Regions from separate parts of the Homo sapiens genome. Here region 1 is linked to region 2. The links come from fine-mapping of genetic effects on gene expression. A gene starts in region 2. The other region holds a variant in brackets. All regions are shown on one strand. Distances are from middle to middle. Region 1 overlaps LOC105369867 (a long non-coding RNA gene). Region 2 holds the start of PTPRQ (protein tyrosine phosphatase receptor type Q).

What was found. PIP is the estimated chance that this variant, and not a neighbour inherited with it, causes the effect. A credible set is the group of variants that fine-mapping cannot tell apart.
Region 1: its variant is the best candidate, but not a certain one, in a credible set for the expression of PTPRQ in fibroblasts (GTEx, PIP 0.85).

Annotation. Positions count from the first base shown.
Region 1 is chr12:80,686,082-80,702,629 of GRCh38, reverse strand. All of the region lies in intron 1 of LOC105369867 (a long non-coding RNA gene), which reads left to right. Among named protein-coding and RNA genes, the nearest start is that of MYF6, 13 kb to the left of the region's middle. The variant G/T (reference allele first, on the strand shown) is at 8,308.
Region 2 is chr12:80,435,699-80,452,246 of GRCh38, reverse strand. It overlaps PTPRQ (protein tyrosine phosphatase receptor type Q), which reads right to left and starts at 8,012. Exons shown (of 45, transcript NM_001145026.2): 1 at 7,848-8,012; 2 at 7,398-7,506; 3 at 6,530-6,756. The coding sequence starts at 7,901.

The DNA.
Region 1 (16,548 bases), 250 kb before region 2:
TAATTTCCAGGGAAGGTGACAATGAATGCTTTTCTCCCTGAGAAACACATATTCCTCAGTGCAAAACATGAAGCCTTCTTCATAATTCTGCACCTCCGTCCCCCCGCTTTTATTCAGATTTCTGAATTTAAGATTAAAATTTGGAAACCATTAGAATTTTTTCCAGGTTAAGTATTCTTTCCTGGTGAGGGGCCAACTGGCATAGGTTTGCTTAGGACTGAGCAGGTACCCAGGAGGCCAGATTTTCAGTGCTAAAACTGGGGAAATCCTGGTCAAGTCAGAATGAGTTTGTCATTCTATTTCCCAGAAAAAGCCCATAGAAACTGACATACATCTATTCATAAATAAGAACAATGTACAGAGTGCAGGATATATAAAGTATAGATTTTTTATTTAAAAAATTACTGTGATTATAAATATGGGTTTTGATATTAGACAAAGTTCTAGGCCCAGCTCTACTACTTGCTAATCATTTGACATCGGACATGTTTTATAATTTTTCTAAGCTTTAATTAACTAGTCTATAAAATAGAAATAATATTACTTTATAATATTGTTTTAAAGGTTAAATAATGTCAATAAAATCCAATATACAGTATCTAGCACATAAACAACATTCAACACAAATTATTTCAGCTATGATTGAAGGAAAAAAAATCATCCATTCCTTGTTGCTTCAATAAATCAAACCCTACTTTTTTGTTTTCTATATGAACAAAATTTTACATAATGTCATATGATAGAATGCAAATTTTGTTACTTTTTATTTAAATATAAATACAATATAATATTATGTATATATTGCCTTTTTCAAAGAAAATATTATATAAACATTTTATGATGCTAAAACAACTAATATTTTAAATGTTCAAAATCCAAAATATATGGAATGATTTTCCTATGATGTTTAATTCTTTTAAAAATGCAATGAATCATGATATTCAGATGACCCCAATTATAGTGGTGCTTGGTGTTACTAGCTTGCTAAGATAAACAAATGTCTCTAGTATAGTATGGTTAGCCAAGTATTTTGTTACTGCCCTCCAACTGGCTGGTTATGACATATTGCCCAAAATGTTTGGTGCTTTAATGGCTGTGTCAGGGTCTACCGTGACAGATAGCCACCACTGTACAAACACATTTATTCCATAAAGTTTCCCTACCAGTTTGGAAGAAAAAGTTGTTTAATCAGATATTCACTTACATCTCACGTTTTTTTTGAAAGTCCAGACATTTTTGTCTGTGGATAATACATGTTAGTTTTTAGGTTAGTGAGTGATAGAAAGTTATAATGTGTTTAAATTGCATATAATCTGGAGCTTTTTAAAGTACAGGCATTACATGTTCAACATGTCACTGGTCATATAAAATTAATCATATTAAATTTTATCTTCCCTGATTTTATATGATTTGGGCTAAGTGTTGTCATATTAGAAAAGACTGTCTGTGAATTTTACAATATTAGTATGGCCTTTTTATTAAGCCATTTAAATAGATTTTTTTCACTTTCTTGTATTTCAGTATAAGCTATCGCGAGATTTATGCTGCTTCTTTTGTAGCAATATAATGTTGAAGAATTGGTGCTTCCAAAAGAAAAGAATAAAAAGTAGTAATATATATAAGTTTTTTATTTTGTAAAATTGTAGCCATTGTTCAACTCTGAAAAAAAATAAGTTGCAGGCCCTTATATGTTGAAGTACTTTAAGTAAATGATCTCTTTACATCTTCACAATATTTTACCAAGTGTATAATATAATTGATTTCATTTTAAAAATACAGAAAGCAAAGCAAAGATAAGTTAATCTATTTGCCCAAGATTGCATGCTATATACTTAAACCTGGTTCATATGGCACTGATTCATATAATTAAAGAGAAGCTTTTCTTCTGAATCTCCTGACAGCGACCAAAAGAATAGTCTTCTAGGAGTTACCTACCTTACAGGAGCTTTGAGTGTTTATTTGGGAAACTTCAGGCTAACTTCTGTTTTTTTGTTTCTTTTTTGTTTTGTTTTGTTTTGTTTTCAGTCACATGTCCCAAAGAGGCATGTTGGTAACTGATGGCTGAGATTTGGACCTACGTATTGTCCCATTAGCAAATAATGACACAATGGTATTTTCCATGTACACTACTACGTACAGGCAGCCTGTCTCAGAGGTCACAAAATAGATGTTCAAGTGAAGATACTCAAAACACATGGTCTGATTCATTATTTTAAAACACACAGTGAGAAGCAAAAGGAAAAAGATGGAATAATTTAGTGCACTATTGTAGGGTAAATGTGGAGAAAACACATTTTCCAAATACTAAGTTACACAATGCTCTTATATCCTGTCTTTCTCTTTTCCCCAATTAGTCGGCTCCACTTACAGTAATAACAAGGACTAGGGTTGAGAGCGAGCAAGGGATCTTAGCAGGTAGAAGGTGTCTACAACCAATACACAGATCCTGTGAACAACTAGCCATATCTAACTCTCATGGATAGGACAGTCTTTTCCAATTGGACATCACATGTTTTGAGGATATTATGCTCACTTGAAATTACTGAGGTGTCTAACTATTGAGAAGGCTAAATGTAAATATGGTTGATAGAGATAAAGAGAAAAATAAAAGCAAATACTGATCTTACTTTTTCTACAAAGGAGCACATGGAAAAAGGCATTGTAGGATCTTTTGGAAGAGAAATTTTATTTTCTTAGTCTCCCATTAGATATGCTGAAACAAATTACATTTTGATATAATTATTTTTGCTATATTTGGTTTATTAATATAAATTATACTGAAGTTTAGCAAATTATTTTATGTAAGCCATTTATAAAGAAAGCCTTTATTAAGAAATACCTTTCACATAAAGTATTCCTAAGATAGAGATGGAATACACTTGAAATTTTCAATTTGTGTTAATTATGCTTTTAGTGAGATTTAATAATCAAAAATTTAAAAAAACTACTACTTATTTATTAGTTGACAGAATAGAGAGAATTTAGTTTTAAATGGGATTACAACTGAAAGAGGCTAAAACAAAACATCTTGGTTTGTTAACATATTTTAAACTCACTTAGAAATAAGTTAGCTTGGGCTTGAAAGGGTCTTTTCTTTCTCAAAATGATGGGCACAGTTTGATCCAAGAATTACCACATAAGCTGAGTGTAGAATTCCTTTCTAAATTTGTTTCCACGAAAATAGATGATCATATGCTGTTGGAGATCAACAAAATAAGGTGCTTCCATGACGCATAGTAAAGCATTCTTTTCTGTGAAACGCTTTAATGTGAACTGTGACAAGCATGACTCCTATGATGGATATTTGGTGAGGTACGACGTTCTTATTATGCAAACAAGAGCTTATTAACATGGTTTCCTCAACTCCACTTCTCACTTCCAAATCCTCTAGGAATTGACACCAACTGTCCATTTTGACACTTGTTCATTAATTTTCTTTCAATAGAACTATTCTCTTCGCTCAGCTGTTGTAGCAATTTAAGATTTTACATACTTTTCTGATATGGCTCTTTGTTGGACATTCCTTCTGTGTTCAGAGGACCAAATAACACCAGAGTTCTAATGTATGTCACAAAGTCCTTAGTTCAGTTCACCACTTGTTCCATTACCCAATCTCATAAAAGGGAACTTCAGCTCGACCTCTTAAAAAGTGAAAAGAGCAAAATCAATTAGTTCTATCAAGACTTAATGGTCATGACAGCAATAAATCCATGCCAGTGCCTCCTTTCCTAACCTGAATCTTTTCACACACCTGCCAGTTGATTCCTGGTTATAAGTTGCTTACAGAAAATCTTTTTTTTTCTATTAGTAGGCGTGTGTGCACACATGTGTGAGTACACTCATATCACAGCCATGACTGGAAGCACTAACAGATCACAGGCAACAGATAATGATTATTTATTCCTTTGTGAAATATGCTCGACTTTGCAAATTTTTATTCGTGATCAGAAAGCACCCTCGTTTTGAGGATTAAAGGGCATAAAAATGAATAATATAAGGAATGGCTGCAGATGTGTCTAACATTTGTTTTGTAATAAAATAAAGTTGGACCGTGCAGTGGTATGATTTCTCCATGGCACAATACGCTCTTTTCTTGTGTCAGTTTTTGTTTGGGTTTAGTGAGAAACATCACATCACAAAGAAACAATGCAAGAATCAAGAGTTGCTTTGCACTTTACCGATCTGTCGTGCTGTTCCTGGAAACGTTTATATTTGAGGCTTGCCAAAAGACAGCAATTGTTTTGTGGTTGCTATGATTAAAACAGATATAAGTGTAATAACTGATGCTTGATGGTTTCGATATTCTTTTACTATTTTGTTCAGATTCATTAATATGCTTTAGTCTTTTAGATTTTGAATTATGTTACGATGCAGTAGCACTAAGAACATATGCTGCTTTTTAAAAAGAATGAACTCTTTTCCAGATATTAATTCTTTAATCTTAGGTATATGATTCTAAAATACCTAGACTTCTTATGTTTCCATACTTTATTTTTACTTCTTTGAGGATTTGGTATTCTAAATAGTTTCTAAATCTCTAATAGCAGAAATTTTTCTTTAATCTTATCCATGTCAATTTACCAAAAAGCTTATATTTTTCTGACTTTGAAGAAAATCCCAGACTTCTCAATGAATAAGTTATCTTTTGAAGATCAAAGTGATTATTAAAATCAGCTTTTGGATATATGATAATATTGTAATACTATTTTTGGCAGTGGTAAGTTACTTAAAGAGTTTTATAAGTACATCATAATAGCAATAACCTCAGACACAGGGAAAAATGAAGTACGATCTTATAAAATCTTATAAGATTAGCATGAAATTGTTCTGAGGGTGCAGTAATTTAGATGTGCCTTCAGAAGTGCAGAGCAAGACCTTTATAAGGCTCTGGGACTCTGGGACTTTGAATAGTCTATTAAAGACAAATAATGGAGAAAGAAAGAAACAGAATGAGAGAAAGAAGAGGAGAGTAAAAGAAGGAGGAAGAGGGAGAGTGTGGGGGAGAGAGGGAAAAGCTATAAGGGGGAAAGTGGGATTGTGAAGCCATTCTGAGTTCAGAATTGACCACTAGACGTCTATTAAAATCAACTCTAAAAAAATCACAGGGTTTTCAAAATCAATGCATACTCTGGAATTATTTAAAATGCTTAAAATACTGGGTTGACACAGAAGGCTTTAGGGTAAAGTACATCTCCTTGTTAATGATTTGCTTCTTTGGGAATACAATTTGGTAGAAAAGTTAGCACATAAGTCACAGAAAGCTTGGAAGTTCCTGATGTTGTTTCCTACATTTTTCTACTTCAAAATTCAGTCTGTAAGGAAATATTCATAAGGAGGCTATTTGTGGAGTGTGGATCATCAAACTATATTCACTTTTCATAGCTTGTATTGATTATAGTATCTGATTTTATGTTTACATATATCCTAGCACTTATCACATTGCCTTATAGTGCTTATTGTTCATATCACCCATTACATAGGGCAGGAAATATGCAATAATCAATATAGATTGCAGAAGACTATCTGTTCTAAAATAGACACTATGTAATTTTTGTGAGTGATTGAGTGAAAGTGGTAATAACTGTCAAAACCTTCTATCATCTATGAGAATGTCTTGAAATGGCATTTTTTATTCTTAGAATTTTAAATTTCTATTTCTATTTGGTATTTGCTTAAATTTTATTGGTGTTTTGCCCAAAAGATGCATATTTAAATCAATGCAAGACATAATGCTCATTTACTGTCTGAAAATAATTCCGCCAAAACTTTTGTTTTGGTAGAAGTTCCTGAAACCTCTATGGGACCAGAAGTTCTCTACTCAAAATACATTTTGTAACAAGACATTTTTTTTTTTCTGTAGCTAAAATTGCTAAGCTTTTGACACAAGTCTAGCTGTCACAACCAAATTTTAGTACACCAGTCAGACCTTCATGCTATGGTTACATAGATGAGTATGATTATTTATTGACTGTGTTTTTTAAAAGCAGTGGTGGGCTACTTGTTCCTAGTCACCTTGCTCCTGAGTACCTGGGCATCTTTGATGTCCTTGGTCTCTGTGTCAATAAGTCATTATTTCATCTAGCTGGGCTCATAAGTATAAGGGTCTCAAGACATGTGGTTATTTACCTTTGCTCACTCTTCAAAACAGTCATCAGAAGCTAATCTGTGTTGCTACCTTGTCACCTCCCAAACCTTGCTGGTTCAGAGTTTGATGGGAACCTGAAGATAGTCAGAACAGTATGGAACCCCACGTGGAAAACTAATCCTTACCTCTTCTTTTTGTATCCTTCACATTTTTTCTTTACAAAGCTGTTGATTTGTAGTAATAAAAATATTTTAGTTTACCTTAAAATAATTTTGTAAAACACTTTTTAGTCCAGTACATCTTCATTTTTAAAAAATGGTATCTTAAGTGTTACATACTGGGTAGCTCATTTCTGAGAGGCCTGTGAAATGATCACATTAGCCTATATAGTGCGATTGACATAATCAGGACTCAAGATTTATTAAGTAATAATCCTATGATCAATTGTAACCCTGGGGGAACTTGTTAAAATTTGGATTCCCAAGATCCACTGCAGCCCAACCGAACCAGAGTATTTCTGTAAATGCTAGTAGGGATTCTGATGAGATTAAATGTGTCCAGCCTAATGGTTCTTAAACCTGGCTGCACAATAGAATAACCTGGGAAATGGAAAATGATTAAAATGTGCAGCCACTACTGAGAACTTTTGGCCTAGCACAATGCCCAACACCTATTTTATGTTCAATGATTGACAGATACAGTTAAGTTAGATAAAAGAAAAGCTAGCAAGTGATTAAAAACCCTTCTCTCATTCTAATATATGTCATGAAAAGAAGATTAATGAAATTTCCTATCTAAAATTATTTTTATTTCAACTGGGAATGAATCTTGGCTTTTAGTAAGCATAAATTTACCTTCAAATACACAGTTAAATGATTTTACATTAGTAGAAATAAGTATCATTTAAATTATATATCACTTTGGCCACTGTATGTAATACAACTTCTTTTCTTCCTTAAAGTTCTACTTTAAAACATGGGTTCTAGAATACAATGTCAAGAAGAAATAAAACTGTATCAAGGATTCAATTACTGTAAAATCCAAATTCTCATATGATGATAGAGGTGATAAATACCACCAGTATGTATTGAGTACTGTTAGCCAGTTATTATTTAAAGTTCTTCAGATGTATTGACTTTTTGTTCACAATATCCCTAAGAGAGTTAATATCAGCCCCAGATCTTCATATTGTGCATTTAAAGTGAAAACAAACATACAGAAAAGAAATGCTAGGATAAATCACTTAGCCTCACATATTGTTTTATAAATAATTCTTTATTGGAATTAAATTTGCATAAACATCTCTCAAATTGTAATTTTATTTGCTTTAGAACATAAGGACCTTTTCTTGGTGTATAACCAGCTACCTTGATATACTATGAGAACTTAAGTACAAAGTATTCTATATCACTATAATGTCTACTGCTAGATTATGTGGCATATTGTTTAAAAATCAAGTAATAAGTTCCTGTTTGGTAGAGTTAGATTGTAGTCAGTATGCATACAGTTCATTAAAGTAAGTATGTAACATATTTCTTTATAGTTTCCCATGACAAATGAAATATTATTTCAAAAAAAATTTAAGGAAATTGAAAAAAATAAGACTAATATAACATGTTTTTAAAAATAGTAATTCATTGTCTTAGAAAAGACTTCATAATCATGAAAAACTCAGCAAAACAAGCCTTTTCTTTCAACTGAGTTAATTTAGCCAATTTTTGAATGGACTCACTTATTTAATAGTTTCTTATAAATTTCATTTAATTCAAGCCCAGGCCTTAAAAGCAAAATGGTCATAATTCTAACCAATGCCATAAATCCCCCAATTATGTCACTAGGTATCTTCATGAAATCTTACATTTCTTTTAGTGACCATGACCAGAAAAAAAAGGATTGGAAACATCACTCCAAATTGTTAATAAGAGTTACCCTTAGGTACTAGAGTTTAACGTGATATAATTTCATTTTACTTTTTAGATTTTTCTGTCATTTGTACAAATTGTATAATAATTTTATATTTTGTAATGAGAAAATAAATATTTGAGACAATAAAATAAAATCAGTAATTTAGGCACAAGTAGAAGAAGTGCATCTGGTGAATAAGACCAAATCTTAGTTTCTAGGACTGGGAAACAAGGCATGCACTACATTTACAGAAAGATTTTCTTGATGTTGATCTAAGAGTACTGAAGGAATATAATATTTTCCTAGATAAGGACTAA[G/T]TTCTTTCCAGAGTGAGGCTGAGCTTTCTGGTTAGATTGAGTTGCTTCTAAAATATAGAGACGAGGATGTTGGAGCAGGAAACCAGGTAGCTTGCTCCCAAAAATAAGCTTCAATTGCCTGGGAAATTCCATTATACAAATAAGGTCTGTTAAAAGATAAACTGAGACACTATACAAATTTTAGAGTTTATTTGGGCAAACAGTGGTACATACATTTGGGAAACACCAAATTGAAGGACGTCTTGAGCTCTACTAAAGAAATCCAAGTGGAAGGCTTTTATAGCATGACTGGGAAGCAAGAAATTGAAAATATTTGAGTGGTTACACTTATATAGTTGCTCTATTTGGTCTGTTCCATTGCTGGCAGCTTCTGATTTGTTGAACTTGTTTTCTTTTTAATGATTCTGGCATTTACAATAAATGGCCCAACTTGTTTTGCTTATGTTTGCAGTCCAAGCAAGATTAAGGTTACTTTCAAGGCTAGCTGGGTTTGTCTGCTTAGAAATTTTTCAAACCTGGTTTTCATTTTATTTTATTTTATTTTATTTTATTTTAACAAGTCCTTCCTAATTATAACAGATTATATTATAGGCTGCTTTTATTAAATTTGTTGTACCAGGAAGTAAGGCTACTCAAAGTAGTCTATTGACCTAAACTTTAGGTTTAGTTTCTTGATACACATCTTTGAATTCTGATAAATTGTGGAGAAAATGTAAATATCTAAAATTGGGGTTGGAGGATTCACTGGACATTAATTACCCTGAGAAGGGGGAAATTATTTATGGACTTTAAAGAGAAACAAGGCCTTGGGACATACTAAGATTTATTTTCTCCGTAATCCATTTTGGTTACTGGTGATGAGGTTATATCTTACACGACTCCATTATTTTCCTTACCTACAATCATTTAGTTCCCTACTATCATTTACTTAATAACTTTTGTTTTTTCCACTGGTGGGTGATATTTCCTTACTATTAAAATCTTTTAACACAGACTGTGTTAGAAAAACCTGTGTGTTTCATTGAGGCCTTGGTTGCTTTCATTGAGATAAAGTATGTTATCTCAACAATATACTTTTAACTTGTTTAGATAATAAACCATTTTAATACATGAAAGGGCAGTTCTTTTTTCATCATTTTTATTTTCTGAATTTTGAAACCCATTTCTCATTTATTCTTCCAGATGAACTTAACTTTTTTTTTTTCAAATTTGGAACAATTAAATGTTATGAAGACTTTTAAATTGGCATACTAAACCTATGAAGTAATTGGAGAATAATGATGTTCTTTATAATAGGCCTCTCTTACTTAAAAAAATCATATTTTGCATTTCCCTATGTTATAGTATTCTTTAGAAATGCACTATAAGTTTAGCCTCTCAATATTTTATTATAGTTTGGACATTGTCAGTGAACTAATTTTTCCTATTTTATCTTTCACTCATGTTAATTGACTACTTATGATTTTTATATATTTATTTTGCAGTCACCTGCATTAGAGAATTTCTTATTACGTATATATCTTTTTCAGTCTATTTATCTGTATTTTCTAGGTATGCAATATTTTTGTACCAAATAATGGGAATTTTGACTTATGTTATTTTTGTTTACTTTATTACTGCTTTGGTTAGATTAGTGGTAATACATTTTTGGTACCTGATTTTGATGATTCCCTGCCTCTAAAATGTCTTTAGTACCCTAAATTACTTAAAACATTGAAAAATTCATTCATGTACTCACTGAGTTACCATTTATTTAGTACTCTTAGGCACTGTAAACGATATTTATATATATGTGTGTGTGTGTGTGTGTGTATATATATATCTCTATATATTCATATGCAGGATATGAGGGGCCATTGAAACCCATCTGGGTCTCTACTTTGCATATCACCCTGAGGAAGTGAGCCACCACTGAGTCTAGCTGGCGAGTAGAATCTTGCTCCCTGCTGACCTGCTTCCCTGCCACTTGGACCTGCCTAGTGCCAGTTCCTGGATTCTCTTTAGCCTTGCTTCACCTGCCTGTTATGATATGCTACCTCTTGCTAGTCTACTCTCATGTGTCCTAGCTGGGTTCACCATCTGTTGCTCATTACTGTACTCTCTGGACCTGCTGTCTGCCTCCATGCATGTGCACATTGGCAACTGAATCCAGATCTGCCTCTGCATCTCTACCACCTGCTTCAGCCCTGTGGGATATCTTGTTCCAGCTTTCTTCTGAAACTGCCTTACCCTACCTTTTCAGTCTAATAAGTTTTGATGAGATCTTTTAAATAATATGTCAAACCCATTTCTGTCTCCTTAAACAGTAAACATAATGTAATTGAAAGAGAAAAAAAATGTTTTCTTAAAGATGCAGAGGCTGGTGTTGTAATATTTTTTTTTTATCCAGTGGCTATTGAAATATGTTGGATTTCAATAAATGGTCCCAAATTTTTAGGTTTTGAAGATATATGTGTTGTTAATAAGGAAGTGTGTGTGTGTGTGTTTGTGCACAAAATAAGTATATAAGCCATCAATTTTGCTGTTTCTGGATTGCCATGACCTGGAAAACCAAGTTTGTTGAAGTATTTATAATGTAAGAAAAAAAGACTGTTGATGAACTACTTTTTAATAAGTTGCTCAATTATACAGAATTCTTTTTTGTTGGCTTCAGTTGTTTAAAGGATTTTTACACACTATCAAGTTCCTGGTTACATTGTGGATAACTGATAATCCTGAGCAAATGATACATTAATCACTGTATGCCAGTTTTCCCTGCTCTTTCACCTTCATTTATCTTTGATCTACAAGTGTTTGTTTGTTCCCTGACTGCAAAGATATTTTAGCATGCGTGAATTGGTAGGAAAATACACTGTCACACAGACATTATTTTACTTCTGCTAAGGCAAACTGTCAATTGAACATTTTGTTTAAGTTTCTGTCATGAGTAAGATGTTATTTAAGTGTTACGTGGATAAAATTATGAGAATAACTTGGTCTTTGTTCACAACCAGTTGACAATCTAGTAAATGGAGAATGCCAGTGGATAAGAACCTGCAAAAACGCCTTCAGAATTCAGTTCTAAGAAAGGTCTTAGTTATTGAGGGAAATGTAGGAGCCAAAGCATGGTATTTGGGAACATGTAGGATGTGTTTTAGTAAGCAGCAAATATTCTAATTTGGTTTAGTTCTAGAAAAAAGAATACTGTGGGAAGATATTTTTAAAAAGTGAGTTTAATTTAATAGTCAATGAAGGGCTACTGAATAGATCAGTGAAATGATCAGAGCTGAGATTTAGACTTAAATCTCAGCGTTTCAGAGCTTTAGATTTAAATCTGGCAAGTGTAGAGTTGGAGCAAACAAACCATACAATTTGGTTTGGACCAAATGTATATTGGATGAGATAGTGAATAAGAGAAAGAGTATAGTACTAGACACCCAAATACAAAGGCTGGCACTATCACTGACTATATGACATGAATAACTTAATTTGCATAAAATAGCTATTACAGATACTATCCATAAGCTTCTGTTCTTGAAAGAGGGCATAGAGTTTATGTGTATGTACTACGTCCAAGTAGATATTATCATATATCTAGTGGTCTCCATGTAACATAACAGGATATGGTGGCAAACACTACAGGCTCTGAAGCCAGACTTCCTGTGTTCAAGTCTAGGCTCTTTCATTTACTTAATGTATAATCTAGGGCAGTTTATTTAACCTCTTTTTGCTTTGGTTTCCCTATCTGTAAAAGGCAGATAATAGCACCTAGTGCTATTATCCGAGAATTGTCATGAGGTTAATGAATTAATATTTGTAAAGCCCTTAGAAGAGTGCCCGGCACATGGTAATGATTCAATAAAGAAGATTATTATTAATTACAGTAAATAAAATTATTACAATTTTAAATGTATCACAATTATTCATATCACAATTTTAAGTATAATCTTTAACACGTAAGTAGGTAAAACTTCTGATTTAATAGCCCAGGGAGTCAGTACTAATCCTGTTACTATTTACCAACTTTGTGAATGTAGTACACTCAGATTGATGAAACCAACTCTGTGTTCCAGTGTCAGAGTCCAGCAAGTGAATTCATCATATTTTTCAAGGCAGTTCATGGGGTTATAAATACTAAGTGAATAGGAGCATAATTAATTCTTTGGGAAGAACTTGGAGCATATCAAGTTTTAATGTTTAAAATGTTTAAAAGACTGATTGTTAGTGCTTTGGGAATGGAGTAAGCATATAACAGAAGTAAGTAAATATTTTTCTCAGTGTTGTACTCATTCAACCAGGAGAGCTTGAATTATTATTATTGTGAAAATAATCCATAAACACTTTATGTCATTTATTTTAATAAATCATTAAAATTTAAAATTACCTGTTTTTTTAATTATAAAATTCATCAAACAAAAAACTATAAAGCATAATACAATAAATATTTTACTCATTACTTAATTTTAGCAAATCTGACAATGTTGACAGATAGGCTTCAAATTTTAAAACAAAAATTTACAAATGCATTGGAAGCCCTTGTGTATCCCAATCTGATTCCATCACAATCTATCTCCATACCTGCATTGCTCCCTTGCCAGGGGAAACCATGATTCTGATGTGAATTTTTACATTCCCATTCATTCCCTTGATTTTATGTCTGTACTAAGATGGATGCATCCACAAAAAATGTACTACCTGTTGTATTTTTTAAACATTATATGAATGGCATACAAATGTCTCAAAACTATTTTTTCATTATTTTTCTGTTTAGTAAATTGTATTGGTTTATAGTATACATAAAATAATACAATCATTGTATGTATACAACTTAAGGGATTTTACACATGAATATGCCTGTGTAAACAGCACTCCATTCAAGATAGAGAACACTTTCATCATTCCCAAAATGTTCCCTTTGGTCGACTAAATTCAGTTCCCCACTTACACCATACCCCAAGTAGTCATCATTTATTCAATTTCTATCACTATGGATTAGTTTGAACTATTCCAGAACTTCATAGAATGGATTCTTACAGTAGGTACTCTTTTGTGTCTGTCTTCTTTCACTCAGCGTATGTTTTTGAGAATTCTCCCTGCTCTTGTGTGTATTAGTAGTTTATTCCTATTTTATTGCCAATTTGTATTTCATTGCTCAAATAGACCACAACTTGTTTATCCACTCCTGTTGATTGTCATTTGGACCCTATATTTTTGTCCGTTATGAATAAAGCTGCTAAGAACATTAATACAACTTCTTTTCTGAAAGTATATTTTAATTTCTCTTAGATACATGACTAGGAGTGGTAATGTTGGGTAGTATGGTAATAATGGTAGTATGTTTAACTTTACGAGAAACTGCCAAACTGTTTTCCAAGTGGATTGTACCATTTTATACTTCCAGTTCCAGCTGCTCCAAATCCTTACCAAGATGACTTGATATTTTGATAATTTTAATTTTAATCATCCCATTGGGTGTGTGATGGTATCTCATGATTTTAATTTGCATTTCCTTGATAACTAATGGTATTGAACATCTTTTGTATTGGTGCTAAATATCATTTGACATACTGGCTATCTGTGTGTGTGTGTGTGTTATACTTTGTAAATATACATATATTCTGGATATAAGTACCAGGACTTGTATCCTATTACATGTATTGTGAATATTTTCTGCTATTCTTCCAGCCTGTGGCTTGACTTTCCATCTCATTTATTTATTTGCTTATTTATTTATTTAGAGATAGAGTCTCACTCAGTTGTTCAGGCTGGAGTGCAATGGCATGATCATAATTCACTGCAGCCTTGACCTCCTGGGTTCAAGAAGCAATCCTCCCACCTCAACCTCCCCAGTAGCTGGGATCACAGGCATGTGCCATCACACCTAGCTGATTTCTAAATTTTTTGTAGAGATGGGGTTTCCCTGTGTTGCCCACGCTGGTCTCAAATTCCTGGGCTCAATTGACCCTCTCACCTTGGCTTCCCAAAGTGCTGAGATTATAGGCATGAGAGACCATACCTGGCCTTATTTTCTTTTTTATTTTTATTTTATTTTATTTTATTTTCTTAACAGTGTCTTTTGAAGAGCAAGAAATTATACTTTGATGAAGGATAATTTATCAAGTTTTTCCTCGATGTTTTATTTTTGGTTTGTATACTAAGAAATCTTTGCTTATTGAAAGTTCATGAAGAATTTTTCTTACTTTTATCCCCATAAGCTAAATAGTTTTAGCCTTTACATTTAGGTCTCAGATCCATTTCAATTTAATCTTTGTGGGTATTTGTATAAAGGTGATGATTCGTGATTTTTCGTATAGACATCTAGTTGTTCCAATACTGTTTTTGGAAAGACTATATGTTCCCTGTTGAATTATTTTATCATCTTTGTTGAAAACCAATTTACCATCTGTGTGCAAGTTTATTTTTGGACCTTTTTTTCTGTAAATGAATCTATAGATCTATAGTGTAAATCTTTCAATTTTGTTCTATTTTAAAGTGTTTAGTCACTTTAGGTCTTTTGCACCATATAAACTATAAAACTAGTTCATCAATTTCTTTAAAAAAGTCCTATGGAATTTTTATTGAGATTTCACCAAATCTGTAAATCAATATGAAGAGAATTAACATCTTAACAATATTGAGTTTTGAGTTTATGAAAATGAATTTTGGAGAAATTTATTTTAATCTTAATTCCCATCATTAATGTTTAGTGGCTTTTAAGTATATCGATCTTGCACAGATTTTGTTAAATGTATCCTAAACTTTTCATGTTTGTGGATGCTTTTTTACAAATTTAATTTAATTTAATTTTAAGTTCTGGGATACCTGTGAGGACTTGCAGGTTTGTTACATAGGTAAGTGTGTGCTATGGTGGTTTGCTGCACCTACCAACCCATCACCTAGGTATTAAGCCCCTCATGCATTAGCTATTTATCCTGATGCTCTCCCTTCCCCCTGGATGCTATTGTTAATGGTATTTTTAACTGCAATATTCCAGTTGTTCATTACTAGTATGTAGAAGTAGATTTTTGTATCTTGACTTTATATCCTTTGACTCTTTTTTTAAAGCTACTTGTTATATCTAGTAGCTTTTTTGGTAGATTTCTTAAGATTTTTCTCATACATGATATATTTTTCTCTACTCACATAAGCAGTTTTATTTCTTCCTTTACACAATATATTCCATTCATTTCTTTTTCTTGCCTTATCATAAAGGCTAGAAACACCAGTAGAATGTTGAATACAAGTTGTGAGAGCAGGCATCCTTGACTTTTTCTTGATATTAGGGTGAAAGCCTTCAATATTTCACCATTGAGCATAATATTAGCTCCAGCTTTTTTCGTAATTGCTTTTGGTCAGTTTGAGGAAGTGCTTTCAGCACTTTGAATGTGTCATTCTATTTTCAGTTGGTTTGCACTGTTTCTGAATAGTAGCCAGAATATTTTCTTTTCTGTCATCCCCAGAACAGGTATCTCTCTTCTTGGTTGCCTTTAAAATTGTTATCTTTATCAGTGACTTGCCTTGATTATGCAAGCAATTGATCATGATATGCCTTGGTATAGGGGTGTGTGTGTGTGTGTGTGTGTATGTGTGTGTGCTTATGCAGAAATTATTGTAGCTACAAAAGTGAGAGTAATGATAGTGTGTATGCATGCGTGTGCACTTATCTGCCTAGATTTCTTTGAGATTCTTGAATCTATAGATTCATATTTTTCAAATAGAAATATTTGGACATTATTTCAAGTATTTTTTCTGCCCTCCTCCACCCCTAGTTCTGTAATTTGATTACACTTATGATAAACAATGTGAATTGATCTCCCAGGTCACTGAGAATCTTTATTGTGTTTTCAGGCCTGTTTTCTCTCTATGCTTCAGTTTTAGATCATTTCTATTCCTGTTCTTTAAGTTTGCTGATTTGTTTCTTCTCCAGTGTCTAATTTGCTCTTAATTGCATCCAGTAGCATTCTGATTTCAGCTATTATGGGTTTTAGCTTTAGAAGTTTATTTTAATTGTTTGTAGTTTCCAGTAATATTTATATTTGTTTCCCCTGTTAACATATTTTAATAGCTATATTAAAAGTTCTTGTCTGCTAATTATATCCATTTTTATTTATATGTGTGTTTCTAATAATGGATCCTTCTCCTGGTTATGGGTTGCTTTTTTCTGCCTAGTAATTTTTAACTGAATATCGGGTATTGTGAATGTTACATTATTAAATGTATTTACTTGGTTTAATTTTATAAGGGCTGGGATTTTTCTTTTTC
Region 2 (16,548 bases):
CTCAAAATAAAAGGATGGAGGAAGATCTACCAAGCAAATGGAAAACAAACAAAGGCAGGGGTTGCAATCCTAGTCTCTGATAAAACAGACTTTAAACCAACAAAGATCAAAAGAGACAAAGAAGGCCATTACATAATGGTAAAGGGATCAATTCAACAAGAAGAGCTAACTATCCTAAATATATATGCACCCAATACAGGAGCACCCAGATTCATAAAGCAAGTCCTGAGTGACCTACAAAGAGACTTAGACTCCCATACAATAATAATGGGAGACTTTAACACCCCACTGTCAACATTAGACAGAAAGTTAACAAGGATACCCAGGAATTGAACTCAGCTTTGCACCAAGCGGACCTAATAGACATCTACGGAATTCTCCACCCCAAATCAACAGAATATACATTTTTTCAGCACCACACCACACCTATTCCAAAATTGACCACATAGTTGGAAGTAAAGCTCTCCTCAGCAAATGTAAAAGAACAGAAATTATAACAAACTGTCTCTGAGACCACAGTGCAATCAAACTAGAACTCAGGATTAAGAAACTCACTGAAAACCGCTCAACTACATGGAAACTGAACAACGGCTCCCGAATGACTACTGGGTACCTAACAAAATGAAGGCAGAAATAAAGATGTTCTTTGAAACCAACGAGAACAAAGACACAACATACCAGTATCACTGGGACGCATTCAAAGCAGTGTGTAGAGGGCAATTTATAGCACTAAATGCCCACAAGAGAAAGCAGGAAAGATCCAAAACTGACACCCTAACATCACAATTAAAAGAACTAGAAAAGCAAGAGCAAACACATTCATAAGCTAGCAGAAGGCAAGAAATAACTAAAATCAGAGCAGAACTGAAGGACATAGAGACACAAAAAACCCTTCAAAAAATTAATGAATCCAGGAGCTGGTTTTTTGAAAGGATCAACAAAATTGACAGACCGCTAGCAAGACTAATAAAGAAGAAAAGAGAGAAGAATCAAATAGATGCAATAAAAAATGATAAAGGGGATATTACCACTGATCCCACAGAAATACAAACTACCATCAGAGAATACTACAAACACCTCTATGCAAATAAACTAGAAAATCTAGAAGGAATGGATAAATTCCTCGACACATACACCCTCCCAAGACTAAACCAGGAAGAAGTTGACTCTCTGAATAGACCACTAACAGGCTCTGAAATTGTGGCAATAAGCGATAGCTTGCCAACGAAAAAGAGTCCAGGACCAGACGGATTCACAGCCGAATTCTACCAGAGGTACAAGGAGGAACTGGTACTATTCCTTCTGAAACTATTCCAATCAATAGAAAAAGAGGGAATCCTCCCTAACTCATTTTATGAGGCCAGCATCATCCTGATACCAAAGCCAGGCAGAGACACAACCAAAAAAGAGAATTTTAGACCAATATCCTTGATGAACATCGATGCAAAAATCCTCAGTAAAATACTGGCAAATGGAATCCAGCAGCACACCAAAAAGCTTATCCACAATGATCAAGTGGGCTTCATCCCTGGGATGCAAGGCTGGTTCAATATACACAAATCAATAAATGTAATCTAGCACATAAACAAAATCAAAGACAAAAACCGCATGATTATCTCAATAGATGCAGAAAAGGCCTTTGACAAAATTCAACAATGCTTCATGCTAAAAACTCTCAATAAATTAGGTATTGATGGGACGTATCTCAAAATAATAAGAGCTATCTATGACAAACCCACAGCCAATATCATACTGAATGGGCAAAAACCAGAAGCATTCCCTTTGAAAACTGGCACAAGACAGGGATGCCCTCTCTCACCACTCCTATTCAACATAGTGTTGGAAGTTCTGCCCAGGGCAATTAGCCAGGAGAAGGAAATAAAGGGTATTCAATTAGGAAAAGAGGAAGTCAAATTGTCCCTGTTTGAAGATGACATGATTGTATATCTAGAAAACCCCATCGTCTCAGCCCAAAATCTCCTTAAGCTGATAGGCAACTTCAGCAAAGTCTCAGGATACAAAATCAATGTACAAAAATCACAGGCATTCTTATACACCAATAACAGACAAACAGAGAGCCAAATCATGAGTGAACTCCCATTCACAATTGATTCAAAGAGAATAAAATACCTAGGAATCCACCTTACAAGGGACGTGAAGGACCTCTTCAAGGAGAACTACAAACCACTGCTCAATGAAATATAAAAGAGGATACAAACAAAAGAAGAACATTCCATGCTCATGGGTAGGAAGAATGAATATCGTGAAAATGACCATACTGCCCAAGGTAATTTATAGATTCTATGCCATCCCCATCAAGCTACCAATGACTTTCTTCACAGAATTGGAAAAAACTACTTTAAAGTTCATATGGAACCAAAAAAGAGCCCACATCGCCAAGTCAATCCTAAGCCAAAAGAACGAAGCTGGAGGCATCACACTACCTGACTTTAAACTATACTATAAGGCTACAGTAACCAAAACAGCATGGTACTGGTACCAAAACAGAGATATAGATCAATGGAACAGAACAGAGCCCTCCGAAATCATGCCGCATATCTACAACTATCTGATCTTTGACAAACCTGAGAAAAACAAGCAATGGGGAAGGGATTCCCTATTTAATAAATGGTGCTGGGAAAACTGGCTAGCCATATGTAGAAAGCTGAAACTGGATCCCTTCCTTACACCTTATACAAAAATCAATTCAAGATGGATTAAAGACTTAAATGTTAGACCTAAAACCATAAAAACCCTAGAAGTAAACCTAGGCATTACCATTCAGGACATAGGCATGGGCAAGGACTTCACATCTAAAACACCAAAAGCAATGGCAACAAAAGACAAAATTGACAAATGGGATCTCATTAAACTAAAGAGCTTCTGCACAGCAAAAGAAACTACCATCAGAGTGAACAGGCAACCCAAAAAATGGGGGAAAATTTTCACAACCTACTCATCTGACAAAGGGCTAATATCCAGAACCTACAATGAACTCAAACAAATTTACAAGAAAAAAACAAACAACCCCATCAAAAAGTGGGTGAAGGACATGAACAGACACTTCTCAAAAGAAGACATTTATGCAGCCAAAAAACACATGAAAAAATGCTCAGTATCACTGGCCATCAGAGAAATGCAAATCAAAACCACAATGAGATACCATCTCACACCAGTTAGAATGGCAATCATTAAAAAGTCAGGAAAGAACAAGTGCTGGAGAGGATATGGAGAAATAGGAACACTTTTACACTGTTGGTGGGACTGTAAACTAGTTCAACCATTGTGGAAGTCAGTGTGGCGATTCCTCAGGGATCTAGAACTAGAAATACCATTTGACCCAGCCATCCCATTACTGGGTATATACCCAAAGGACTATAAATCATGCTGCTATAAAGACACATGCACACGTATGTTTATTGCGGCACTATTCACAATAGCAAAGACTTGGAACCAACCCAAATGTCCAACAATGATAGACTGGATTAAGAAAAAGTGGCACATATACACCATGGAATACTATGCAGCCATAAAAAATGATGAGTTCATGCCCTTTGTAGGGACATAGATGAAATTGGAAATCATCATTCTCAGTAAACTATCGCAAGAACGAAAAACCAAGTACCGCATATTCTCACTCATAGGTGGGAATTGAACAATGAGAACACATGGACACAGGAAGGGGAACATCACACTCTGGGGACTGTTGTGGGGTGGGGGGAGTGGGGAGGGATAGCATTGGGAGATATACCTAATTCTAGATGACGAGTTAGTGGGTGCAGCACACCAGCATGTCCCATGTATACATATGTAACTAACCTGCACATTGTGCACATGTACCCTAAAACTTAAAGTACAATAATTTTAAAAAGGCATCCAAATTGGAAAACAGGAAGCATACTATCTTTGTTCACTGATGACACAATTGTATATCTAGAAAACTCTAACGACAACTCAAAAATAATAATCCTAGACTTGATAAACAATTTCAATAAAGTTTTGGGATACAAATTCAGTGTACAAAAATAAGTGGAATTTCTATACACCAATAACATTCAGGCTGAGAATGAAATCAAGAATTCAATCCCATTTACGATAGCCACAAAAAAAATAAAATATCTAGGAATACATTTTACAAAGGAGGTGAAAATCTTTACAAGGAGAACTACAAGACACTCATGAAATAAATTAGAGATGACACAAACAAATGGAAAAACATTCCATGCTCTTGGATTGGAAGAATCAACATACCATACCACCCAAAGAAATCTACAGATTCAACACAATTCTTATGAAATTAGCAATGTAATTTTTCACAGAATTAGAACAGCAATCCTAAAGTTCATATGAAACCAAAAAAGAGCCCAAATAATGAAAGCAATCCTAAGCAAAAAGAACAAATCTGGAGGCATCACATTACCTGACTTCGAATTATACTACAAAGCTATAGTAACTAAAATAGCACAGTACTGATAGAAAAATACAGATATACTTTAATGGAAGAGAATAGAAAACCCAGAAATAAAGTCACATACCTACAACCAACTGATTTTTGACAAAGTTGACAAAAATAAACAATGGGGAAAGGATATTCTGTTCAATAAATGGTGCTGGGGAAACTGGCTGGCCATATCCAAGAGAATGAAACTGGATCCTTAGCTCTCAGCATATACAAAAATTAGCACATTCTGGATTAAGGACTTAAATATAAAACCTGAAACTATAAAAATACTAGTAAGAAAAACTAGGTAAAACTCTTCTGGATATTGGACTAGGCAAATAATTTATGACTGAGACATCAAAAGCAAATGCAACAAAAACTAAAATAGACTTAAATGGGACTTAGTTAAACTAAAAAGCTTCTGCACAGCAAAGGAAATAATTAACAGAGTAAACAGAAAACCTACAGAGCTGGAGAAAATATTTGCAAATTATGCTTCCAACAAGGGATGGATATCCAGAATCTACAAGGAATGAAAACAATACAAGGAGAAAAACCCCATTAAAAAGTGGACAAAAAACATAAACAGACATTTCTCAAAAGAAGACACACAAGTGGCCAGTAAGTATATAAAAAATGCTCAACATTAGGAATTATCAAAGAAATGTAAATTAAAACCACAATGAGACATCATCTTATACCAATCAGAATGGCTACTATTAAAAAGTCAAAAAAACAGATGGCAGTGTGGATGCAGAGAAAAGGGAACACTAATACACTGTTGCTAGAAATGTAACCTCTATGAGAAACAGTACGGAGATTTCTCAAAGACCTGAAAATAGATCTACCGTATTCAACCCAGCAATCTCACTGCTATGTATCTATCCAGGAAAAGAAATCATTGTATCACAAAGACACCATCACTCATGTTTATTACAGCATTATTCACAATAGCAAGGTCATGGAATCAACCTAAGTATCTATCATATGGGTAAAGAAAATGTGGTATATATACACCATGGAATACTATGCAGGCATAAAAAATAAAATCATGTTCTTTGCAGCAACATGGATGGAGCTGGAGAACATATCCTAAGTGAAATAATTCAAAAATAGAAAATCAAATACCACACATTCTCACTTACAAGTGGGAGCTATGAGTACACATGGGCATAACAATGGAAATAATAAACACGGGATTTCAAAAATGGGGAGGGTAGGAGAGGGTGAGGATTGAAAAATTACCTATTGGGTACAATGTTTACTATTTGGGTGATGGGTATACTAGAAGCCCAAACCCCACCATTACACAATATACCCACGTAACAAACCTGCACACATGTCCCCTGAATCAAAAATAATTTAAAAAAAAGACATTTCATTGGAGTCTAAATTTTATATACAGAACAAGGCCATGTTCTTAGACCACAATATCTCAAAACCTGGCAAAATTATTTTTACTAAGTATACTTTTATTATTTTACTGTTATGGAAAGAAGTTTACAAAATCCAGTCCTGCAGCTATTAATCCTTCAACGAAGACTTTCTTTCCAGTCTAAAGCACCAAAAAAAAAAAAAACTTGAGCTCCCATATGCAATTATTATACAATTTTCATACGTAAATTGTATAACAGATTTATTGCCCTTTTTACTGTGGTTTCTAGGAATTTGGAGAATAAAGTTTGCAAGTCAATTTTTAATAACTGTGTAACATCCTGTGGTTTACATACCTGCATTCAAACTACCCTGGCCTCTTGTTTGCATTTAAGTTTTCCTTCTTTAACTTTACATAATTTTTATTTCCTAGAGTATTGTATTATATTCATACATGTATATAAATATATGCAAAAATATTCATAGAAAAAATGAAATAGGTAATATATAAATATGCATAAAATTGAAATGAAAAGACACAATAACATTTTACCAAGTTTTAAAATCTCAGGTGGGTGTGAGGCCATGACTGTGAACGTTGTCAGTCACTGACTGTATTCAGCTGTAAAGGCTTGACAAGGTGAGAAAAACCTCCCACACTTTTAAAATGAATGAAATGTTTGAACACTAAGTAGTCATACACAAAATAATTACCTTAATTTCATATGTTGTTCCAGGATTAAGATTAGTAAGAAGAACTTCCAGACTGTCTGGCTTTGATCTGACTTGTGTATATACTGTTTGCATCCACGGACAAACTTCCTTATATTTGACAATGTAAGATATAATCCTTCCATTTGGATTAGGTGGTGTATTCCAAGACAGAAGAATCCCAGCAGATCCGACTCTTTCCCCGGCTAGGAAGACTGGAGGCCCTGGTTCTATTTTTAAAAAATCCATTTTGTTAAAAGGTCAAATAATTATTGCATTTTCACAAAAATACATAATAACAGTATTTATAAATGTAAAATTTGAAATTTCCAAAGAGCAATATGAGTTCACACTCCCTACAGCTCTGTTACTATTAAAAAAATACTATGTGGAATACCAAAAGCATTCCTTTATAAGAATGTGAAAAATGGAATGCTACTAAATAAATACTACATGCCGAATATACTTTTGTTGCCAAATCATTTTTAAAAGAAATTCACTTACGCAAGGCTTACACAGAAAAACTAAGAAAACAAGAAATAATCTTACAAATGGAATAATCCTTCCTGAGCAAATGTAGCCAGTTCATTTTCATGGTTCTGTATTATTTAAATGTTAGCATTAACAGTCTCTCTGATCTATTTCACAAACAAGTATAGAGTAATTATCTTTGCACTTTGAAAGTAAAGGAAGCTGAAGAAACAGCAGAATGCAGGTTCTAAGCAGATCACTTTCTTGTTTCCATTTTGCCTTATTCTACACTGTTTTCATGAATTTAATGTACATGTTGCCAGTATAAGTATTTCCATCCAGTAGAATTATACTGACTCCAAATACTTTACTTACAAAGTAATTTAAAACATATACTCACTTGTTACATTTGTTGTCACTATTCTAGTAACAGGTGAGGTGTATGTTGTAGAAATTGAAGAGATGGTTATATCGTACCTAGTACCAGGAACGACATTGGAAACATCAACCTAGAACACCACAAACAAATAGTTGCATTAAAATTCTTTCTGGAAAGCAAGCAAGCTAAAATAAATCTATCACTATAACAAAAATTAACTCTTCACTATATAACTCTGCACTGTTTATAACATCACAATAAGTTCCATATTATTGTAAGATACAAATATGTTATATAACTTTTTACCAAATGACTTTAAAATAAAAACTTACAAAACGTACTGCGTTATCACAGCCTAAGTCAGCATTTCTATCTATCCTAGTTCACTGTCACAAGGAACAACTATTCAAGTCTTGAGAAATCTACAGCCCATGACTTAGCCCTTGTTTTTAAAGAGTGTATACGAAATACCTGTGTCTCTGAAGTCCCAATAAAAAGTAAAAGAAAAATGATAAGAAAATCCATCTTTATTACATTTTTCAGCCAGTAGAATCACATTGATGGCTCTAGAGAGAAATGTTGCCTGCATTAATGATTTAAAGACAGATCCTTCTGGCAAGTACACAATTAATGAGCCCATATTACTCAATAGCTCTGCCTTTTCTTTGTTAAACTATTCATGAACCCTTGGATGACTGGCTGTAGGTTCAGGGTGAACTTAAAAAAAAAAAAAAAAAAAAAAAGCAGCATAGATGTTGCTAAGGTAACAGTCCACCAATGCTGAAACTTAACACTCATCAGTTTGACATCAACGTTTTTGTCTTCAACTTATGCTTTCAAAAACCCAACAAGGAGTAAGTTTTTGTGGTAGATGGGTTTCATAAAATAAAGAACTTTCCTATTAGGAGCAAAATATAAATACAAGTAGGCTCGGCAAGTACAATAATGAAAACTATACCTGATATTCTCCACCTCCAAGATCTCTGATAGTAACAAAGCCACTGTCAGGAACAAGATCCACTTGATACCTTTCCACATGACCAGAGGGTAGGCTCCAGTGCAGAGAAAAGGAATGTGTGGAAATATTGAAGGCTCTAAGTTTCTCAGGTTGTTCTGGTTCTGATATTGAAAAATAGAGGTTTAAAATAAAGTTATTCTCCTAAAGTTTCAAAAAAATGAAAACAAATAGTATAGGTTCAAGTTCCAAAATAATCATGTTGTTAGAAATCACTGAGTACAATAAATGATCTCTAAGTATACTTGGGTGTTAAACATGTAAATATTTAACAACACCTAGGTTTTAGGTATAACTATCATAAATAATATAACAATTAATTTTCTGTTTCTGAAATATGTCTTATTTGCTAAAAGTCTGCTAGTTGACCAGATTGTTTTTGAAAGCTTATGCTCTAATTGAAAATTTGAGTCATTTTAAAACAAAGTAAATATAAACTATTTATCCAATTACTTGGAAATTTACCAAACAGAAGATAATTGGAAAAATATATAATCAAAATCTTCCAGATTTTTTGAAGGGTGAGCATTTCTGATAAATATTTGTTATTTTATCTTTTTTAATTTTTAATGTCTTTTTCCCTTTACTGTGGTGCTGATCTGATAAATATTTTGTTAGGTGTTTCTTTAAAAGAAAAGATAAGGTTTCATATCAGAAATGAAATATAGTTTTAAAACAAGTACCAATTGTTTTAGCCATTTCAACCATATTTTTCTACCTTTGCTTCCACTTTTTCAAAAATTTTGTTCATGCTGCCTGTACCTCCTCGAAGGGAGTTTTCCACATAAAGTTCTTCTGATTGGTTGCCAATGAGTCAGGTTTGCACTCTGCCTTATCTTTAGTGCAGATTCCAGGCAAACAATATAGGGGGAGGAAGAGAGATTATGAAGCCAAGCATGTGAAAACACGCCTGATGCAGATTCAATCTAACACTGTTTCTAAAAGAAAGGAGGCTGGAATTAATTTTGAACCTCATTTATCATTTTAAAACCCCACTACCAGAAACGATTTGAAAATGGATATAATAAAATGTACATTTTCTAACAAAACTAACAGGGCACATTGCATATAACAAAAATATTAACATAATAGGTCACTTTCTTGGTGTTTCAGGGAAGAGCGTTTCTGAAATAGTTTTTCTTTATCGCCTTTGAAATTTCTTCTAATGATTATAACATAACGTTGTCCTCCATACCCAAAGCTTATATCAATTGATTAATGTCCACCCCAACATTCTCAAAGTTCCAAGCATTCTCTTGGCATCCACCGCTAATTGTCCACTATAGTTTTCTGGTAACTCTAGGAATACTGTAAACCCAAGGCAAAAAATCAGAGAAATACCCAGCCTGTGTTGGGTAGAATTTCATTGTTAGCTGCTGGCATTTTTTACAAGGTAAGCCAGACCTATGCCCTCTGTATTCTCAAGCTTGAGAGAAAAAAAGCTTGAATCTCCTATCTGCTACATTAAAATACACAAAAATCTACCATGACTGATCCGTCTAACCAACTACTACTCACATTTACTGATTTGTGTGAGGGTTAATACTATTGCTTCAGGGACCCCAGAGAGTAACTAGTATCTATGAAGTCTTAGACAAGAAACTAATGAAGATATGGAATAAGACTTTGGAAGAAAAAGGAAGATGTGAGAAGTGAAGCACTAGTTACTGGGATGGCAGTGAAATGGGATGTGGTTTCCTGGACTGAAGAACCCTTGCTTAGGAATGAACTATGTCTCACCAAGACAAAGAAAAATATATTGGTCTGGACAATTGCCAATCTGATCAAGAGGGAAGGCCTGGAATCTTCACAAGAGTTTGGTAAAGGCCTTTCCAAATAGCAAAGTGTATGGAAGTCCTGGAAATGAAAAAGGATTGGAGTAACTGAGGAAAGCCAGACTGAGATTCTGGGATCAAAAAAGAAAGGGGAACAGACTGATGATCATGTAGGTCATACTAGAGATTTTAGGGTTTTTTACCTAAATTCAATGGGAAGCCACTGAAGAATTTTAAGCAGGAAAGCAACAGGGCTTGTTTTTTGTTTAAAAATATAATTTTGAAATATGGGATATAAATTAGAGCAAGGCAAAAATGGCAGCAGGAAGCTAATTAGTAGGAAATCATGGTAGTCTAGGCCGAGAGGAGGAAAGCTTGCACTCAGAAAAAGGTAGAGGATCTACAGCAATGCTTAAATCATTATGAAAGAGTGCAGCTTTCTGGTTAAGAGCTAGAAGGTTCAACTAACTGAAAATAGACTCCATAATAAATATATAATTTATTCTCCATGGAATTTAATCTCTCAAAAAATAGGAAACCAAAAAACAAAAATACTATTCTCAACCTAATTCTTACTAACCAATAAAAATAACATTGGGAAGTTGAAATGTTTGGAGTTTTAAGAGGAAAAAAAACATTTCATATTCAACTTAATTAGGGCAAGCAAAAGGAATTCTAGGTTTATTTACGTGTTTCTTCCAGACTTTAATTTCCTAAAAATTAATCCTCAGAACCTTATATCATTAGAGCTTAATAGATGTTCTGTAATCAAACCACTTTGTCAAATAAGTTCTTTTTAAGTTAAGCAGCTTTCTTTATTGCAGTGTATTTTAAAGCCTCAGATATCCTAATATATCTTGTGATTCTCTAAACCATCAATGTCCAATAAAACTATAACGTGAGCCACACATGCAGTTTTGAATTTTCTAGTAGCCACATTTAAAAAGTAAACAGAAACATGTAAGATAATTTTAATAATGTATTTTATTTAACCCAATATATCAAAAGCATTATTTCACATATAATTACTATAAAATTATTGAAGTGGTTACATTAATTTTTTTCATACTAACTCTTTGAAATTTCACATACATTTTAAATTTACAGTACCTCTGAATTTGGACTGGCCATATTCCAAGATTAAATAGCCACATGCTGCCAAACACTACATATTGGACAGTACAGCTTTAACTACTACAGCATCTCTTAAGTTTTTCCTTGGCATTTCAGTGAATTTACCTAAATTTTATTTTGAGAAGCTGAGAAATAAGATCCCATGGTCTTTGTCTATAAAGGAAACAGCTCAACAGAGTTGGGAAGACATCCAATATATACAAAATCTTACATATCTCAGAACATTAAAAAAGAGTCAGACCTATCAAAATGGTATCAAGAAAGCAAAAGACTACAATGGGCAGATATTTTAAAATAAAATGCTAAGACTTTAAAAGTTTCATCATCATTGTTAACTTTATATTTTCTCTGCACTAACACTGTATCTGATAAGTTTTAAATCTCACATTTTAATTTTTCTGTGATTAAATTATAGATCGGACATAATGTATTCTATGACAGATAATGAGATGTACAAGCAGCAGACTTACAAAATAAAAAGAACTAACTCCTACTAAGTTTATGACACACTATGCACTGTGCTAAGCACTTTCATATATTGTTTTATGTAACACTTGCAACAACACCAGGAATACTATTATTGACATTTAAAAGTGAGGAACAAAGAATTTAAGTAATTCCAACAGGTCCCATAGCTAATGGGTAAATGGTAGAGCCAGGATTTAGACCCAGAGGCAAAGTCTTCAAGTTTTCAATCACTATGATAACTGTGTGCTCCTCTAACTTTCACAAAGTGGCTTACAAATAACAGCTGGTTTAAAAATCCTAAATGAATTAATTAATACTTTAAAATAGATTCAACCACAAAATTAGATGATCTATAATTTTTCTTTCAAGCCTATGATTATTATTTGAAGTGACCTCTAATTTTGGCTTAAGGGATTCAGTCTAAATATGTCCCATACCAGGGCAATGTATACTTATCAAGTGCCTGTAGCTTCCTCATATTTTAGAAATAGGCTATGAATAAATTATAAATAAAATAAACATCCTCTAAAAAGTCAGCATTATATCGGATGTCACCAGGGTGTAAAAATCAATTTTTAATACAGACACTGGGCACAGGCCCTAGAGTTGGATTGCTGGGTTCAAATCCTGACTCTGCCATATAAACAAGACTTTAAGCAAAATACTTAATATCTCCATACCTCACCAGCCTCATCTCTATGGGTATAATAACACCTCACACATTGTTGTGAAAATAAAATAAGTTAATACATGTGAAGTGCTTAGAAGACTGCCTTGAACATAGTAAGAACTAAGTACTAAATGTAAGCTATGATTAATAGTCTCTTGCTATTTCTACTATTTTTCTCTAAAAGCCCTGGTCATCTCTTAGTCAAACCATCATGTTACCTGTTCTTCATTTCTCAGCTTAGCCCCCTCCTCATATCCACTCAATGCTTTGCTCAAAATGGATCCCCAAGCACTGCTCCATCATCACTGCTCTTCTGTTTATAAAAACTAGGACAGCAAGATGTCTTCCTGCTCTGGAGACCTCCACCAGGGAACCCAGATTACCATCTTTTCCCATTTCCTCTTCTTATACTCATCTCTTAAGTCACTGTGCTGTTTTAACAGGGACTTCAATTACTTACCTGCAATCTCTCAAAACCATCACCTAAACCACACTAGGCGACCAGAACATCAAGTTCCTACTATTTTATAAAGCTCTCTTTTCTTTAAGTAAAATGAAAACAAACATTCTGTATCTTTTATGAAACTTTCCTGATATTGATACCACCTTGGTCACTTTTTCCTCTGACAAAATTTTCTCTAAGGGAGCAAATCCTGCCACTCACACTAACTGCACTCTTTCCTTTACCTATGTATAAACAAAATAATTTTTCATATTTTTTCTTCAGTCTTTGCTCAATGATCTATTTGATCTTTGTATCTAACTAAATATATCTGCATTTACCACTAGTTGTGATTTGCCACATAGGGGACTTGCAGCAATTTTCTAACAAAAATTTTGATTGGCTCAATTGGAAAGATCCTACTAGCATCTGGTGAGTAGAGGCCAGGGATGCTGCTAAACATCCTGCAATTAACAAGACACATCCTCACAAAGGAGAATCTCTCAGCCCAAAATATCAATAGTGGTGAGGCTGAGAAACGCTGCCACAGACTAAAACCTCTAGAATGGGTCCCATTTTAGTGTGTTCGATTGTATACATTACCTATCATAATACTCTGTAGTAAAAGACATTTGACACATGATTTAACACATTTGCTTTTTAGAAGTAGATAAGGTATATAGTATCTATTAATATACACAGATACTCCTCAACTTACAATGGGGTTATATCCTGATAACCCATCATAATTGATGTGACATTTTCCACCTATGCTGGGTTTATCAGATGTAACCCCAATGTAAGTTGAGGAGTGTACCGAATGCATATTGCTTCTGCATCATTGTAAAGTAGAAAAATTGTGGCATTGTAAGTCATAGATTATCTGTAGAAATAGAACAAAAATGTGCAAAGTGTTAGGAGAATGTGTATGAGTCAAAAGGAATCTCAGAGGTCATCTAATTTAAATTTCTCAGAAACTTGATACCCAAAGACATCAGGTAACTTGCCCAGTAGTACTCAGCTAACCAGTGTCAAATCCTGGAGTAAAGCTGGTATATGAATTCTAAATTTATTCCTTGTTTTGCATTATCACATATATATCACATTTAGGAGAATAATAGTGTATGTGTTAAGCAGTATAAGTAAGGCCCACCCCCACAAAAGATGCCCAAATGCTAAACCCTGGAACGGTGAATATGTTGTGTTACATGGCAAAAGGCACTTTGCAGATGGAATTAAGATTATAAACTATAAACAGAGATCAAAACTGGATTATCCTGGTAGTCCCGATCTAATCATAACAGCCCATAAAAGTAAAAGAGGAAGTCAGAAGAGTCATATATGATGGGGGGAAAGGGGAGCTTTGAAGCCCGAGTGGCACTCAACCCTCCTTTATTGGGTGTAGGAAGAGGATCACAAGTCGAGGAATGAGCCATCCTCTAAAATCTGGAAACAACTGTCAGCTGACAGCCACCATGGAAATAATGACCTCAGTTCTGCAACCACAAGGAACTGAATTCTGCAAACTACTTGAATGAGCAAGGAACTTATTCTCTCCTAGAATCTCCAAAAAGGAACACAGCCCTACGAGAACCTTGATTCAACCAGAGAGAAGTATGTTGGACTTATGACCTACAGAACTATGAGATAACACATTTGAGTTATTTTAAGCCACTATCTTGTGATAATTTGCTACAGTAAAAATAAGAAACTAAGAAAGTGTTGACAGCCAAATAATAATTACCCATACCCTGAATTACCACCATATGTCTGGGACCTTCGGGTCGGTTGTCCAATCCATAGCTTTCAAGATCACTTAAGAGTAATTCTCATGTGTTACTCTTGCAATCTTGTTCTTTTTTGAAAAATTTAAAATATTCATAGGCTTCACAGCTTCCTTTGGATTTAAAAATTACTCTCTAAATTACTCAGGATAGGATTTTATTCTCTTTATATATTAAAAAACAACAAAATATTTCAATATTGAATTGCTTATAGTTCCACAAATACAGCATATTCATTTACACCTCCATAGTTTTGCATGGGCTGTTCCCTACCTCTGGGAGTCCTCCTTTTCACACACTCCATATGCTCTCTAGTCTGATTAGCAAATTCCTAATCCTTTTACAGACATTACCAGCCCCAAAGAGCTTTCTCTATTGCGTTTGTAGGGCTAATCTTTCCCTCTTCTGTGCAACTACAATAAGTTTGGACATACTTCCATTGCTTCGCCTGTTGCACTGACTTATACTACATGTGTTTCCATACTTGTATTCTTTACTATGCTGTGGATATCATAAGACTATGCTTTTTCATGTGTATAACACATATTAGGATGTCAAAGACAAAGAACACATTTTTAGGAGAATAGATGATCCCAAATATACCACATAATTCCACTGGCTAGATCTCTAATTCGGTGTGAAACTGAATATAATATTAACCTCATTTATTGATCACTGTGTGTCAAATAATGTTTTATTCAATTTATATTTCACATGTTATGTCGAAAATCTGCAGAACAGGCCACGCGCAGTGGTTCATGCCTGTAATCCCAGCACTTTGGGAGGCCAAGGTGGGTGGATCACCTGAGGTCAGGAGTTTGAGACCAGCCTGACCAACATGGTGAAACCCCGTCTCTCCTAAAAATACAAAAATTAGCCAGGTGTGGTAGTGTGTGCCTGTAATCTAGCTACTCAGGAGCCTGAGGCAGGAGAATTGCTTGAATCCGGGAGGCAGAAGTTGCAGTGAGCCGAGATCGCGTCATTGCACTCCAGCCTGGGCAACAAGAGCAAAACTCTGTCTTATTAAAAAAAAAAAAAAATCTGCAGAACAGCCCACTAAAATGAGCATTTTCATCCTCTCAAATAGTCTATAGACTGTAAGTTTTCAAATTTCAAAAAATTCTATTGAAATTTTATCTTGAACAATACAATATATAACAGAAATGTGAATTTCTTAAATATCAAAGAGAATTTGCACACCTGCAACAACCCTGGTAAACATGCCACATCCTCCAAGGTTGCCTCTTATTCTGTGTACCATGATGTTATATATTACACCAGGAGTCACATCTGTAACTGTGTGCTCAGTCACCACTTCCCAAATAAGACAGTCTTTTGCAAATGTTCTATTTGATATATAAATCTTATAATGGGTGAAATTGATCTCTGTTGTATTCCACATTAAATTTGAAGAAATATTCACAGCTTTCAAAATTAAGCCACAAATCCTAGATGGTTCTAATGAAAAGGTAAATTATATATAAATAGAAATTACACATATATTAGTAAAAATAAAGCAATTATGAATATTATAATTTAAATATCTATGTAACAGTCCTTTAATTTACTCATGTATAATGTTCTATATGTTTATCTCTGCAAATAGAAAAATAAGACATTACATATGGGTTTTAATTTAAGTGACACAACAATATTCTCTCTAGTTCCCAAATATCTTTCCTTCATCAGTCATAAATCATTCGTGATAAAGGCATTCCTTTAGCTTTGTGCCTCTTGAGTGCTTGTAGCCATACATATCCTTATATGACATAATCAGAATTTTGTTAGCTACCACCAAGCACATAGCTAGATGCCGAATGAAGATGAAAGAGAATAAGTTAGAGAGGGAGCGAGGGCTAGGAGTAAGGGCATTTCCAAATGTCT